Regions from separate parts of the Homo sapiens genome. Here region 1 is reported to be linked to region 2. The links are microRNA targets in miRTarBase. Many come from high-throughput screens and were not tested one by one. Region 2 holds a microRNA gene; the other region holds the end of a gene's coding sequence.
The links. Region 2 holds the annotated microRNA hsa-miR-148b-3p (UCAGUGCAUCACAGAACUUUGU, at 2,412-2,433, shown strand). A microRNA usually pairs through its seed, bases 2 to 8, with sites in the 3' UTR of a target mRNA and lowers its output. Matches are read on the target gene's strand: a 7mer-m8 pairs with bases 2 to 8, a 7mer-A1 pairs with bases 2 to 7 and ends in A, and an 8mer does both.

Region 1: the mRNA of LCA5 is a reported target of hsa-miR-148b-3p. Seed matches in the 3' UTR shown: 7mer-m8 at 5,779-5,785.

Annotation. Positions count from the first base shown.
Region 1 is chr6:79,480,939-79,488,056 of GRCh38, forward strand. LCA5 (lebercilin LCA5) reads right to left here. Exons shown (of 8, transcript NM_001122769.3): 8 at 4,053-6,928. The coding sequence ends at 6,066. It overlaps LOC100506851 (a long non-coding RNA gene), which reads left to right. Exons shown (of 7, transcript XR_001744215.3): 7 at 312-3,431. Among named protein-coding and RNA genes, the nearest start is that of LCA5, 53 kb to the right of the region's middle.
Region 2 is chr12:54,334,867-54,341,984 of GRCh38, forward strand. It overlaps MIR148B (microRNA 148b), which reads left to right and starts at 2,350; the gene lies at 2,350-2,448. COPZ1 (coat protein complex I subunit zeta 1) reads left to right here. Exons shown (of 9, transcript NM_016057.3): 2 at 5,681-5,749.

The DNA of each region.
Region 1 (7,118 bases), not on the chromosome of region 2:
AAAGCCTTAAATAAACCTTTTTTTCTAGGTGTACTTAGTTTTCAGTAGCTGTGATTGCCTATATAAAAAACTCTTGGGTTCTTTGTATCAGGGTTAAAAAAAAAATCTGACATCTATAATGTCCTGTTACAGACTACACAAAAAGTATGCATAACCAGGATCAATATCAACTGGGACCAGAAATTTGAAATTTGGTATTCAGGTCAGTTAAAGAGAGAAGAAAGACAGTCACCATTGGCCATGGTAGTTAAGGAATCCCCGTAGTTCTACTGGCAGGGAGACCATCCTGAATTCTAATGCTCTGCTTTCAGAACACAGTCTGGGTTCCTGATTTGTATCTGTTACCCTTCATGGAAATGGCTGGTGAAGCAAAACTATGTGTGTAAAACTGCATCTGCCACAGGCTGCTTGTCCACAAAAGCAGCAAAGCATCTCTATGGAATACCTCCGTATGGATCTGTAAAGAAGAGTCCCACTTCAGTCAAAGACAGTAGATTATGAGGTAAGATAACACGTGTAGTTTTTAAGATTCCATACTGACAAGCTTCTGTTGTTTTAAAAAAAAGTTTTGGGTGTTGATACAGAAATTAATGCTAAATAGATAATGATCTCCCTCTAATGACATGCTTCATCATGTTACTTATTCTCTTCTCTCAAAAATACACGATGTCATTTAATCTTCACAATAATCTTGTAAGATAGGATCAGCTCTATTTCACTTCTGGAAGATGTTAAGAAAAGTTAATTATTTGACAAAAGTTGTAATTAGCAATTGGCAAACACTCCAACCCAACTTCTGACTCCAAAGTCAGTGTTTTTACTATTCTACTCTGGCTGCTGAGTTCTAATTTTTATTTTGTCTTAGATGAGGTAGATAGAATATAATCACTTATATATGGATATGTATCTCAAAAATGTAGCATTTAGTATGGAAAATACATATTTGGGTCTCTAAGTCTTTCTATGAATTCTAAAATGTAGATGTCATATCCATCTTACCTACTGTAGCTGATAAATCGTTCACCCTTTAATAATCAATGAACTTCACAGTGCAACCCCATCATATCTTATTAGAGAAATGCCTCGTTCCTGGGAATAAGGAGTGCTGAACAAGTAACCAACTTTTAATGTTTATTCCCTATTATTTTTATTCCATATTATTTTTTGATTAAAATTTTTAATAAAAAAAGAATATTTTTTGTATGTCAAAAATTCCTTCATCAGGGGAAACATGCCTCCTCCATTCCACAAAAATCCTGTTCATTCCATGAAGTAGGTAAGAGTAGGGATCCATCCTTTCCCTGCACAAGACCACCAACCTTAATGCTGAGCACACAGCATTCCTTGGGCCAATCAGACTTCTGCCAGACTAGACTTTCTTTTTGCAGGGGGTGGGAGAAGGGGCATGCCAGATGAAGGAATGATGTGGGTTCAAGGCTACCAACTGTAACAACTGCAATATTATCAAATGTAAAGTTTCTCTGAAAATGAGACCCAGCAGTGGACAAAGTAAGTACTATTATTCGAACCTCCAGATCCAACCACACATTATTAAGCTTTCTGGTTTTGAGACAAAAGTAATTTCCTTATTTTGCTTAAGCTTGTTTGATTTGGGTTTCTGTTACCACTTAAAGAGTCTAGGCTGGGCACAGTGGCTCATGCCTGTAATCCCAGTACTTTGGGAGGCCGAGGCAGGTGGATCACCTGAGGTCAGGAGACGGAGACCAGCCTGGCCAACATGGTGAAACCCTGTCTCTACTAAAAACACACAAAAAAATTAGCTGGGCGTGGTGGCAGGTGCCTGTAATCCTAGCTACTTGGGAGGCTGAGGCAGGACAATCGCTCGAACCCGGGAGGCAGAGGTTGCAGTGAGCCGAGACCGTGCCATCACACGCCAGCCTGGGGGACAAGAGCGAGATTTCATCTCAAAAAAAAAAAAAAGTACTAAAACAAAACTCTTTCTAAAATATTTCTTTAGATTTCTCATATTGAGGCTACTGAATGTAATCTACTACCTGTGTAATCTCATGGGTAACCTATAACATATATCACAATCTATTAGCTGTAACTGAAAATGGGAATAACAGTACTTATTTGGAAAAACTTTGTGAGGAATAAAGCACATAAAAATGCCAACTGCCATGTCTGGCATTCAGCAAAAATAATTGCTCTCCACAATTATTGTCTTTCCAAAACAACAATAGCAGCTAACGTCCGAGTGCTTCTGGTTCTAAGCAGTTTTTCTTGTATTAATTTCGAGTTAATTAGGTTAGATTACTGTGAGGTAGGCACTCTAATTAGCCCTGTTTTATAAAGAAGAAAACAAAGGTGCAGAGAGGTGTTGTCACTTATCCAAGGATACACACAGACATTAAGGGACAGCTGAGGTATGAATTACCTATCACATTATGCAACCCAAAAGTTCCGTGGGTTTGAAAGTTTCTGGATTTTGTTCTCTCTTTGCTGTGAAGCTGTTAACTCCCCTCTCCTTCTTATGTCACTGAACCCGTCTTTAGAAAATCCTTTCAAAGTTTAGTTTTTTTACTCTTCTGTGGGTTAGGAAACAAACTCATCATTCTTACTGCAAATTTATTGATTTATTATTACTTTTAAGTTCCAGGATACATGTGAAGAATGTGAAGATTTGTTACATAGGTATATGTGTGTTATGGTGGTTTGCTGCACCCACCTACTGACTTATCTTCTAAGCTCCTTCTCCTCATCCCCGACCCCTCAACAGGCCCGTGTGTGTTGTTCCCCTCCCAAATTTAATACTGAATAAAGTAAGGAGAGTTCTAAGTGCAGATAAAAAAGACATAATGTATTTAGTACAGAGGTTTTAAGATAATTTGGAGGTTTAAAAGCTTTTTCTGCTTATGTCTTGTGCAAAGTATAGCATTAATGTATTACACATTCATACCTGTATTCTATTTGTTCATTCTTTTTTCCCTACAAGAAACTCATAGTTAGCCATGGTAATAGCAGCTAATGTTTACCGAGTGCTTATAATGTGCCAGGCACCTGCCAAGCATAAACCTAAGTATTTCATTTACTCATAACCACCATAAGAAGTACTATTAAAGACCAATAACAGCTGAGCAAGCTGTGGTCCAAGGACACACAGGGAACAGTGGGAGGGCAGGGATGGAACCTCATGCAGTCTGGCTCACTGTGCTCTTCATCCACTTTGTGAAGACAGGGGCCTGTCTGGTTTACTCTCCACGCTCTCCTGCCATCTAACACAGTCTAGGGCATCCAGAAAGTACTAGTGGTTAATTTTTTAAAATTCTCCTGAATAGACTCGCTTGAACCTGGGAGGCAGAGGTTGCAGTGAGCCAAGATTGCGCCACTGCACTCCAGCCTGGGCGACGGAGTGAGACTGTCTCAAAAACAAAAAAAAAAAAAAAAAAAAAAAAACAACACCCAAAAAACAAAAGAAACAAACAAACAAAAAACTCCTAAATAAAAGGAGAGCAATTTCAAGTGATATAAAAGGAGACTTTAACATAAGAAAGTTTTGTGTAGAAGGGGAAAAACTTTTTAAGGCAGATTCGTTGCAATTTATGGTAACTTCTTTAATCCTAAAAAAATCCGTATTATCCCATAATACAAATTTCCCTTCCCCTTTTCATCAGGCAGATTTACATGCTCTATCCAACTAACAACTAGTCGGGGATACCAGAAGCCGAGTATCTCAGAAAATGAGGTGGAAGAGGATAATCAGAAAAATGGCAAGTCAGCCATGGAATAAATTTGTGTTTATTTCACAATTCAATTTAATCCTCTTTACCCTCATCTTTTTTTAAAAAAAAAAATTATGAGCAATATGTGCCATTACGATAGCCATTAAGGGTGAAAGGATTAATTAAAACTATAATTATCTGATAAGACTAGCGTACTGTCTAACCTGATTTAGAGAAAATTCATCTACTTCAACTAAAAATACTCAACATAAAAAAAGGTATAATGAAACAAAAATTAACCCTGCAGGGCCTGTTTCTATTACATATTTTCTAAGTAGCCTCAGGTATCACTTAAATAAAGAGTCATAGTGCATTTTTAATTTTTATTAGTAACAGTTCTGAGTACAAATAAATTTAATGACATTTAGAAAAAAAAACAATTTACCCTGTAAGGTTTGTTCATAAGGAAAACCCTGTTTTGTACATTTTAATCTCCAATTTTAATGCTTAATATCATAATGCCTTTAAATCTGTAACTTAACTTTAGGTTTAATTTTAATAATTCTGTCTTGTTGCATCTTGTTAAAGAGATTATCAGGTAGAAAAAAAGCAAAAAACTAATTTAAATGACGTGAATAAAAAACTTAACTAAAAAGTTTTAAAAGCCTTTAAAACAACCTGAAAATTAGAATACTTTTGGCAGAAAAATTAGCAGCTAGGAACAAAATTAACATTACATAATATTTTACCAATAACTGCATTACAAATAATATTGTTTTACATATATTAGAATGATTTGCAACATATTATAGTAAATGGTTATACATATCAGACATACAAATCTATTAAGAAAACTTTTTAATATAGTTTAGCACTTTTGAGAGATTCTGTTCCCAATAAATGAAAGGAACACAATTTAGAAGATGACAGGTGGTACATCTTTTAATTGGAGACCTAACCAGGTAAGTCTTGACAAATAGTCATGCAATGAAATTCAATAATATGCATTTATAAGAACTCAGAATAACACAGTAACTCCTTCCCCTCATCAGTATATATGACTGGCGTCAGAAATCATACTACGAGCAAATGCTAGTAAATTCTTGAAAAAAACAGCTCACTTTAGAATAAGTGCCAATCTAAATTTTTTATTCTTCCCAACACACTATTTCCACCACTCTTCATTTTAACAATGTTTTCTCCTTGGGCTGGTGGTATATTACTGCTTTTTAAAGACCAATCATACCCAGCATGATCCAAGGTCATCAACTTCTCTATAAGCTGAAGTGAATTACAAACAGCCAAAAGACCAATGCATTTAAACAGAAAACTATCCACTCTAGTCAACAAGGCAGAAGTCCTATGTCTGAAACACTTCTATTCAAAGTTGCTTTAAAACTAATCCTGTAAGTCCAATAGTATTACACTATTGTTGTCTCCTTGGTTTGAGGACAAGTTCAAATCTTAAAAGCATTAACATTGCCAAATTATATTACTCTGGACATAATTGAACTGAAGATCTTTCTATAATATATTGGGATAAAGTTTTTCTATTCTTTGCAGTTGGTATGTATTTCCACTATTCCTTGCATTTGGCATGAAATCTTACACCCAGTCACTGAGATACAAAGAGTGTAGGAGAACAAGGAGAGGAATTACACTGTAGCCAAGCTTCTGCGGGCTATGACAGAGAGCAACTAACTGTCCTTGCAAACAGAGAAATGTCTTCCGAACTCAACATAATATTCTAACAGAATTGTAGGTAAGTGATTTCAGTAAATACTGAAATTGGGAAATGAGTAGTGTTTAGCTGTGGGTACTTTCAGAGGAATGGGAAATCCCAATGTTGTGACTGCTATCACTCAAGAGTAGCTTAGGACTGCCACGTAAGATAGGGACCCCTGGCCCTATCCATAAAGGGAAGGGCTCCTAAGAAGCACTGGTTCTCCACCATCCGGAGCTACACTTCCCAACACAGACTTTCACCCTTAATTTTCATTCAACAATTAGTGGGAAGACTGTATTTAGCACAGTGAGAATATGATTAAAAATAAATACATAAATAGGAATAAAAGTAGAAAAGGAATACCACCTCCAGTGCAGTTAAACTTGCCATAGCACTGGATGAAGAGTTAAAATCTATTTCATTTTTCAAGACATATTTTTATTTTTGGTTTCATTCAAAAAAGCCTCCTTCATTCTTGGCAAACTATCTATGTGGTGTATGTATGATCTACTTCTTTTTAACTGCATTGTATTTAGCTATTAAAAATCATTCCTTAATAAGGACATTTTAGCATTAAAAAGTCTAAATGTTTATAATAAATACTGTATTAAAATATTTCAATATTTACAATTAGAAAAAATGTATACTCTAGTCAGTCATCTCAGTGCTACTTCTTCAATTTCATCTTCTACAGAATCAGCTGCTTTTACTGCTGGTTTATCGTCTGCATGTTTTAATCGGTGCCTATTTGGATTAAAACTTCTTCCTTCACTGAGGAAAAAGCCTTCATCTTCATCATGTTCTTGATCTCTGCTGCCTTTATTCCCAGGGAGAAAATTTAGAGGGTCAATGTCTCCTTTACTGGAAGCCACAGAATTTGGGTCACTGCTTTTGGAGGAAATGGTGCTGCTACCACTGGCACCAAATAACTGTTCCATCAAATTAGCTTTTTTCTCTTTTCTTGTAATTAAATCTACACCATCTTTACTAAGTTTTTCCATACTGTTTCTTTGGAAATCCAAAAAACTACTTTTTTGACTAAATGGATTTGACCTCTCTGATGTTTTTGCAAACGAAGGCACGTAGCTACCAAATGCGAACTCATTAGGGGAGGCTGGACTTCTAACATTTCCTGAATTCTGACCTTCTCCTTTTGGAGTTGAGAAACTGATGTCTTGCAAATGATGCCCATTAAATAATCTCTCTGAGGATTCAGAGAACCTGTATGTTTTGGGGCTTCTCTCTGGGGAGTGTAGTTTTGATTCAAAATCAGGTAACAATGGCAAAACAGGGTATTTTAGATTTCGAGAATCTTGGAGTTCTCTGTCAATTTCATTCAGTTTAGCAAGTAGCATTTCTCTCTTCAGTCTTTCTTCTTCCTCTCCTTGCAATTTATCCATATTCTGAATTGGATACATTCCTAGTTGGTACCTTCCAGTTTCCCACTCTGGCTTTTCTTCTCTTTCCAGTAAAGATGCCTTTTCTTTTTGCTTTTTATCAAGTTCTTCTCTTTCCCATTCTGTATGAAATCAAATTTTTTAAATGGGATTTTGTAACAGTCAATATTTTTAAATAGGAAAACTATCAACTTTCATAAAACCACCATATTTAATTTGGGTATTATAAATCAAGTGAGAAAAGACATCATAAATTTCATTTCTATACTTGATATTCTGGGATTAGAGAATAATATATTTAATACGTATTGC
Region 2 (7,118 bases):
AAAAATAAATAAAAGTTGGCACAGAGGCCAGGTGCAGTGGCTCACACCTGTAATATTAGCATGTTGGGAGGCCGAGACAGGCAGATTGCCTGAGTTCAGGAGTTCAGGACCAGCCTGGGCAAGATGGTGAAACTCCATCTCTACTAAAATAAAAAAAATCAGCTGGGCATGGTGGCAGTCACCTGTAATCCCAGCTACTGAGGAGGCTGAGACACGAGAATTGCTGGAACCCAGGAGGCGGAGGTTGCAGTGAGCCAAGATTGTGCCACTGCACCCCAGCCTGGACAACAAAGTGAAACAAAGTGAAACTCTGTCAAAAAAAAAAAAAAAAAAGTGTTGGCACAGAGTCAGGAAGTATACCTACTTAGCCATTTGGAGCTGGGAGTGGTATCTAGGAATTTCTCCTTCTAGTTTTTACCTTCTTAGTTTTACTTTATAAACAGGATTGAGACAAGAGAATCTTGTTACAGTTTTTAATTCACCAAGACCCATTGCCACATCAGGGTAATGCCACATCAGGCCCTTTTGGTATGGCCTTAGGGAATGTTTTTTTTTTTTTTGATCTGAAGTCTTGCTCTGTCGCCCAGGCTGGAGTGCAGTGGTGCGATCTCAGCTCACCGCAACCTCTGCCTCCCAGGTATAAGCGATTCTCCTGCCTCAGCCTCCTGAGTAGCTGGGATTACAGGCGTCTGCTACCATGCCTGGCTAAGTTTTGTAATTTTGGTAGAGACAGGGTTTCACCATGTTGGCCAGGCTGGAAGGATTTATTTTTAAGTAGACAATGAAGAACTTTTTAGTGATCTCAGTCAGCTTCTTTTTTTTTTTGAGGCGGTCTCACTCTTTTGTGTAGGCTGGAGTGCAGTAGCGCAATTGTAGCTCACTACAGCCTTGAACTCCCAAGCTCAAGCGATCCTCCTGCCTCAGCTTCCTGAGTAGCTGAGACTACAGGTGCATGCCACCATGCCTGGCTAATTTTTGTTTTTTTTAAGTTCTTGCAGAGACAGGGTCTCACTGTGTTGCCCAGGTTGGTCTTGAACTCCTGGCTCTAGTGATCTCCTGCCTCAGCTTCCAAAAGTGCTAGGATTACAGGCATGAGCCACTGCGCCTGGCCTCCATATTCTTATTTGTGCTCTTTCAGCTCTGTAGATGGCATCCTGTAATTCCCTCCATAGAGGCTTCTTGGTTTTTTCCCCTAAATGAATCAAATAATTCATTATAGTTTCCAAGTATCCTCTCTACCTTCCCCAAACATATTCTCCCAGTCTTCTGGTGGCTTACTAAGATCTTACCCCAAAGAGTTCTCTTACTATATACATTGTGAACAGACTTAATTCACTTATTTTTCAGGGCCCATCTCTACTAGTTTGTCCTACAAGACACACAAATAGAGAGCTTTTGCCGGGTGCGGTGGCTCACGCCTGTAATCCCAGCACTTTGGGAGGCCGAGGCGGGCGGATCACGAGGTCAGGAGATTGAGACCATCCTGGCTACAGTGAAACCCCATCCCTACTAAAAATACAAAAAATTAGCCGGGCATGGTGGCAGGTGCGTGTAGTCCCAGCTACTCGGGAGGCTGAAGCAGGAGAGCTTGAACCAGGAGGCGGAGCTTGCAGTGAGCTGAGATCGTGCCACTGCACTCCAGCCTGGGCGACAGAGCGAGACTCCGTCTCAAAAAAAAAAAAGCTCTTATCCAGAGCTGCCTTTGAAAAATATTTTTGCTTATGACTGTAATCCTGTGGAAGCTGCAGGTCACCGAGAAGGCCCACAGGGGGCAGCACTAGGAATGACTCTTTCCCTCTAGTCCTCTATGCGCTAGGGGAGAGAGTTCTTGGAGATGTTGATGCTTTTCACCAGGCTTTAGAAGCCCCTGATTGAGGCCGGGCACGGTGGCTCACGCCTGTAATCCCAGCACTTTGGGAGGCCGAGGCAGGCAGATCATGAGGTCAGGAGTTCGAGACCAGCCTGGCCAATTTGGTGAAACCCCGTCTCTACTAAAAATACAAAAATTAGCTGGGCATGGGGGTGTGTGCCTGTAGTCCCAGCTACCCGGGAGGCTGAGGCACAAGAATCACTTGAATCCGGGAGGTGGAGGTTGTAGTGAGCGGAGTTTGCTCCACTGCACTCCAGCCTGGGTGACAGAGAGAGACTGTCGCAAAAAAAAAAAAAAAAAAAAAAAAAGAAGCCCCTGAGATCAAAGATTCATTTGCAGCAGCCTAGTTGCTTGTTCTGTGGTGTTTCACCTGTCTTGAGGACAGCATTCTTGTTTTCTTGATAATAAAAACATAAATACATGAAAATCTGTCTAAGTCACCCAATCTCCCACAAAACAATCTGCCTATACATCATTTCCAAGCACGATTAGCATTTGAGGTGAAGTTCTGTTATACACTCAGGCTGTGGCTCTCTGAAAGTCAGTGCATCACAGAACTTTGTCTCGAAAGCTTTCTAGCAGCTACCCATTTTGGGAGTGGGAGGGAAGAATAGACCTTTTAAATTCTTTCAGTGTGGCCCTAAGCTGATAAGGTCTTTCTCAACAGTCAGCATTTAATGTGTTACAAGGTCAAGCCTAGTCCATTGTCCTGGAAGCCCATTTCTCAGTAGCTGGGAGTTATTTATAAACTTGCCCTTTGCAAAAACTTAAAATGAAATTACATTATCAGTAATGACTTCTGGGGCCTTTAAACTGGCTAGTTTTATGGCATAGCCCTCCCCACTCCTGAGAGGTAAAAGCCCCAGGCTGAAGTGGAACCAGCTGCAGTCAGGAGGTGGCAGGAGAAGTAAAGAAGCTGCTGGCTCCAGCTGTAGCAGAATGGAGAATTGAAGCGGCATTTAAGCGCCTGCCTAAATTCTCAGCTTTATTTAGTATGCTTCCTCCTTTGGAAGTTTGAAATGACCAGCCTTTTCTGTAATGCCTTCTTTCCCTTTTGAGAGCTCCAGTAAGCTCTATGTCAAATCTAGTCTTTATCCTTGTCCTCCTTAGCCTGTCTTTTATTCTTCCCAGGAAGATCCAATGTTTCTATTTTTGGGGTTTCTTTGATAATGTCTTCTAGGAAGCCAGTGAAAAGAACCAAGAGCAGAACCCAGGGATATGTTCTCTCTTTGCCGGTGTGGCTGTTGTAGGCACTCACACCCTGTTGGCCACAAAGGACATTGTCTGACTCTCCCAGTTGGCTGGGGGCCATTAGGGCTTTGCTTTTCTTTGGGTTCTAGGGATGCCAAACTCTATGGCTGCAAGAACCAGTTTCCTATGCCAGGTTAATGCCCAGCTTAAACTAATGGGCAGCTCTCTAAAGTTGCTGTGAATGTGGATAGAGGAACAGAGCCAAAGATTTCCAGGAAAAGGTTGTGGGAAAAAATGATTTCGTCTAAATTTTGTTCCTTTTGGACTTCTTTTCTTCCATTAAGAAAACTCATTCCCATTGTTGTCTCCCTTTTGGAATTGAGGACCCAAGTTGTTATAGAACTGAGCCTGCTTTACAGGAAGATCTTTCTGTGAGGAATTAGGAGTTAGGAGAGCTGCTTCTACTTGTGACCTTTTAAGACTAGACTCTAGAGGACTTCCCTCCACTAGGCAACAAAGTTCTTTAGTTTGAGAGAGGAGTTACTCATGCCTTGTTTATTCCAGAGTGTTATATATACAGGATGGACATCTCTAAGGAGTGTTTATCAGAGGAGGGATAAAGTTGGTAGTAATATCACCCAAAGTGGCCACATCAGAAAATCCACTTATATGTGGAGGTCTAATTATAAGTAGTCCCTTAGATGCATACTGCGTCAAGGTATTTTAACTTTATTCTCAAACTTCCTTTATTCTCTGAATTATTCACCAAATATTGAGAGTTTAGTATGTGTCAGGCATTGTTCTGGACAAATGGGACAAACCAGCGAACAAAACAAAAATTGCAGTCCTCAAGAATTCAAGTAGGGAAAGCTTATGTTCCTCATCACCTTGTTGTCAAAAGACTGGGTTCCTTTTACTTCCATTCTGAACTGCCCTCCTCTGCCCCCGCAAACAGGGTTGATTCTTTGCATGGAACCATAAACCTCCTGAAGCCTCATGAGGCAATTTATGTTTGTAGAGGCTGCAGTTTCTGGGTTCTTGGCAATGATTTTTTCCTCCTCACTCTTGGATATCTGTCAAACACATACTTTTGTGTTTGGCTCCTGTGAGGACTGTGGGTTTCTTAAATAAGGCCAGGAAAGAGGTAGCAAAGCAACAGCCTTGTCTCAGCACAAGGGATATCAATGGTAAGTAATGTTGATTAGAAAGTCAAGGAATGTAGGTCGGGCGCAGTGGCTCACACTTGCACTTTGGGAGGCCTAGGTGGGAGGATTGTTTGAGCCTAGGAGTTCAAGACCAGCCTGAACAATACAGTGACACCTTTTCTCTTAAAAAAAAAAAAAAAAAAAAGAAAGTCAAGGAATGTGAGGCTGCAAATACCTTTCATGCACACATCACTATCTCTCCACACTTTTGGTTTTTTCTATTCAATCAATTAGAGATGGGGTTTCACTCTGTCACCCAGCCTGGAGTGCAGTGGCGCAGTCCTAGCTCAGCGTGGTCTTAAACTCCTGGGCTCAAGAGATCCTATCACCTCAGCCTCCTGAGTAGCTAGGACTATAGATGCACGCCACCACACCTGGCTAATTTTTTTTATTTTTGTAGAGATGGGGGGTCTCCCTGTGTTTCCCAGGCTGGTCTTGAACTGGCCTTAAGCAATCCTCCTGCCTCAGCCTCCTGCGATTTTCCTTCTCCTAGTTAGCTGGCTCCCTTGAAGTTGCAGTGGTAGAGGAGAGCAACAGACCACCACAGGTTTTGCAAGTGATATACTTACAGTTGAAGAAGAACCATTAAGACTGAGGCCGTGATTCCTTATTTGATTCTTGGTAGTGGAAAAAAAATTACCCTCTTGCTCACTCACTCTAGGCCCCAGAGTGTTTCTCAGATAGATCATCTTCTCACTGCTTCTTAACTCCCCCAAAATTCAGGTTGGCTTTTGTCCTTGGAAGTTAAGTGGTAGTGGTTAAGGTATAGTGGAAGAATTGGAGAACATAGGAGAGTTTTTGAAGATGGCTGTTTTACTAGGCTGCATTGAGAACTGGTGTGCCTGTGCGTGTGTGTGTGTGTGTGTGTGTGTGTGTGTGTGTGTGTGTAAACGCTCTTTTCCCTCTGCTTAGTGTGTGGGTGGTTTAGGGAAGGCTTGCTTTATGCTTCTGCATTGCTACTGCATTCGGACTGCAGAAACTTCCAAGTATACTAGGACATTCAACCCTATTTTCAAATGGCTTTGTTCAGTGCCTTTTAATTAATCTGGTCACATTCTATAGCCACCTGTACATGGGAGAGCAGGAAGGGAGAGGGTAATTTGGAAAATAACTGTACCATAATATTTGGAAATAACAGCATGACCTCTCTTGATTAAGCCCCCTGTGAGTCAGAGAAACTGTTTCTCTGATGGTACTTTGGAATCCTTTGTTTAAATGCTTTCTCTGTCAATTCAGTTTACTTACCCTGGGTCTTTCTCAATGGGAAATATCAAAATCTGACCAAGTTGAGGTAAGGGACTTACAGAGGTACCTCTGTATCCCCTTGCAGCCCCAGTGGGACTAGGGGAAGGTATCTGGTTTACCAGTGGTGATGGGAGGCTTCAGGACTGAAGGTATGTTCGTATCTCTTCAGGAACCTTCCCTGTATACTGTCAAAGCCATCCTGATTCTGGACAATGATGGAGATCGACTTTTTGCCAAGGTGAGATTCCCTTTCGAATTAGTTTAGGAACAGCACAAAGGTTTATTCTGAGATTTGAATCTTGGGACTGATACCTTATTAACTTATGTTCCTCAGTAGTATAATTTTGAGAATACTTCCATCTTTTTTTTTTGAGATGGAGTTTCGCTCTTATCACCCAGGCTGGAGTGCAATGGCGTGACCTTGGCTCACTGCAGCCTCAGCCTCCCAAGTAGCTGGGATTACAGGCACGCGCTACCACCCCCGGCTAATTTTTTGTATCTTTAGTAGAGACAGGGTTTCAGCAGGTTGGCCAGACTGGTCTCAAACTCCTGACCTCATGATTCGCCCGCCTTGGCCTCCCAAAGTGTTGGGATTACAGGTGTGAGCCACCACACCCGGCCTGAATTCTTCCATCTTATCTTGCCTACTCCAGATAAAACCTGTTTTCTTTTGTCCCTTAGTTGTACTGCTGCCCTGCTTGCTGTCCTCAGACTTTGACCTCCTTTGTTGTCAGCATCAGATCAGGGAAAAGCTTTGAAACTTTGGTTCCTAACAAAGCAGTATGTAGATGCTAAGAGGCAGTCCGCCCATGTCCATCATTCCTGTCCCCTTCCCTCATACCATGTCACCCTGCCTGGGTTTTTCCAGAGAATTGTCTTGCAGTTCCAGGTTTCCATTCCTAGGTTTATAGTCACCATCAAGCTTGTTACCTCCTGACTTTCCCAGAGTGATGTTTCCAACTTTAGATCTGTTGGAAGAAAGAAGAAAGGACACCCTCTCTCCCTCCATATTCTCCCCCTCCTGTAGAAATTTCTTCTGTCCCTGGTGTATTAACTCCGGGCGAGCGTAGCATAAATCAATCAGCAGGTAGAGATTAGTTTAGAATTCACCAGCTGTTCCTCCCTGTAATTGGATGTAACTATGCAGGACACCTTTTGAAACAGTTATCCAGTTACTAAATGCCAGACCTGTCATGGGTCTTCAGCTGACTGCGACGGATTAGCCCCTAAAGAGCTAGCGATTTAGCAGCCTGCATCTCCGCCCCCTTTGCCAGGGAGAGCCTGGGAATGGGCTCAGTGGTATGCTGGATGCTTCTTTCAGCTTGCAGAAAAGAAAGCTAAGATAGATCATAGGGCAGGGTTTGCCTTTCTTTGGAGGAGGTTTTTGTAGCCTTTCCCCATTCCTCAGCTTCATACAGTGAGTGAGGGTCTATGGAAGTGTTCTGTGCTTCTAGTGTTTTTTGTGTTCTCTGGCACTGCTTCCTGACATGGGGTAGCTCCTAGGAAACACTTGATGAGAATGGTTTTAGGAGAGGTCTAGATTGCAGACAGCTGCAGAGCCTCACTGTAGGGCTGGTAGGCTTCTGCCTTCAGACAGTCTTGGAAAT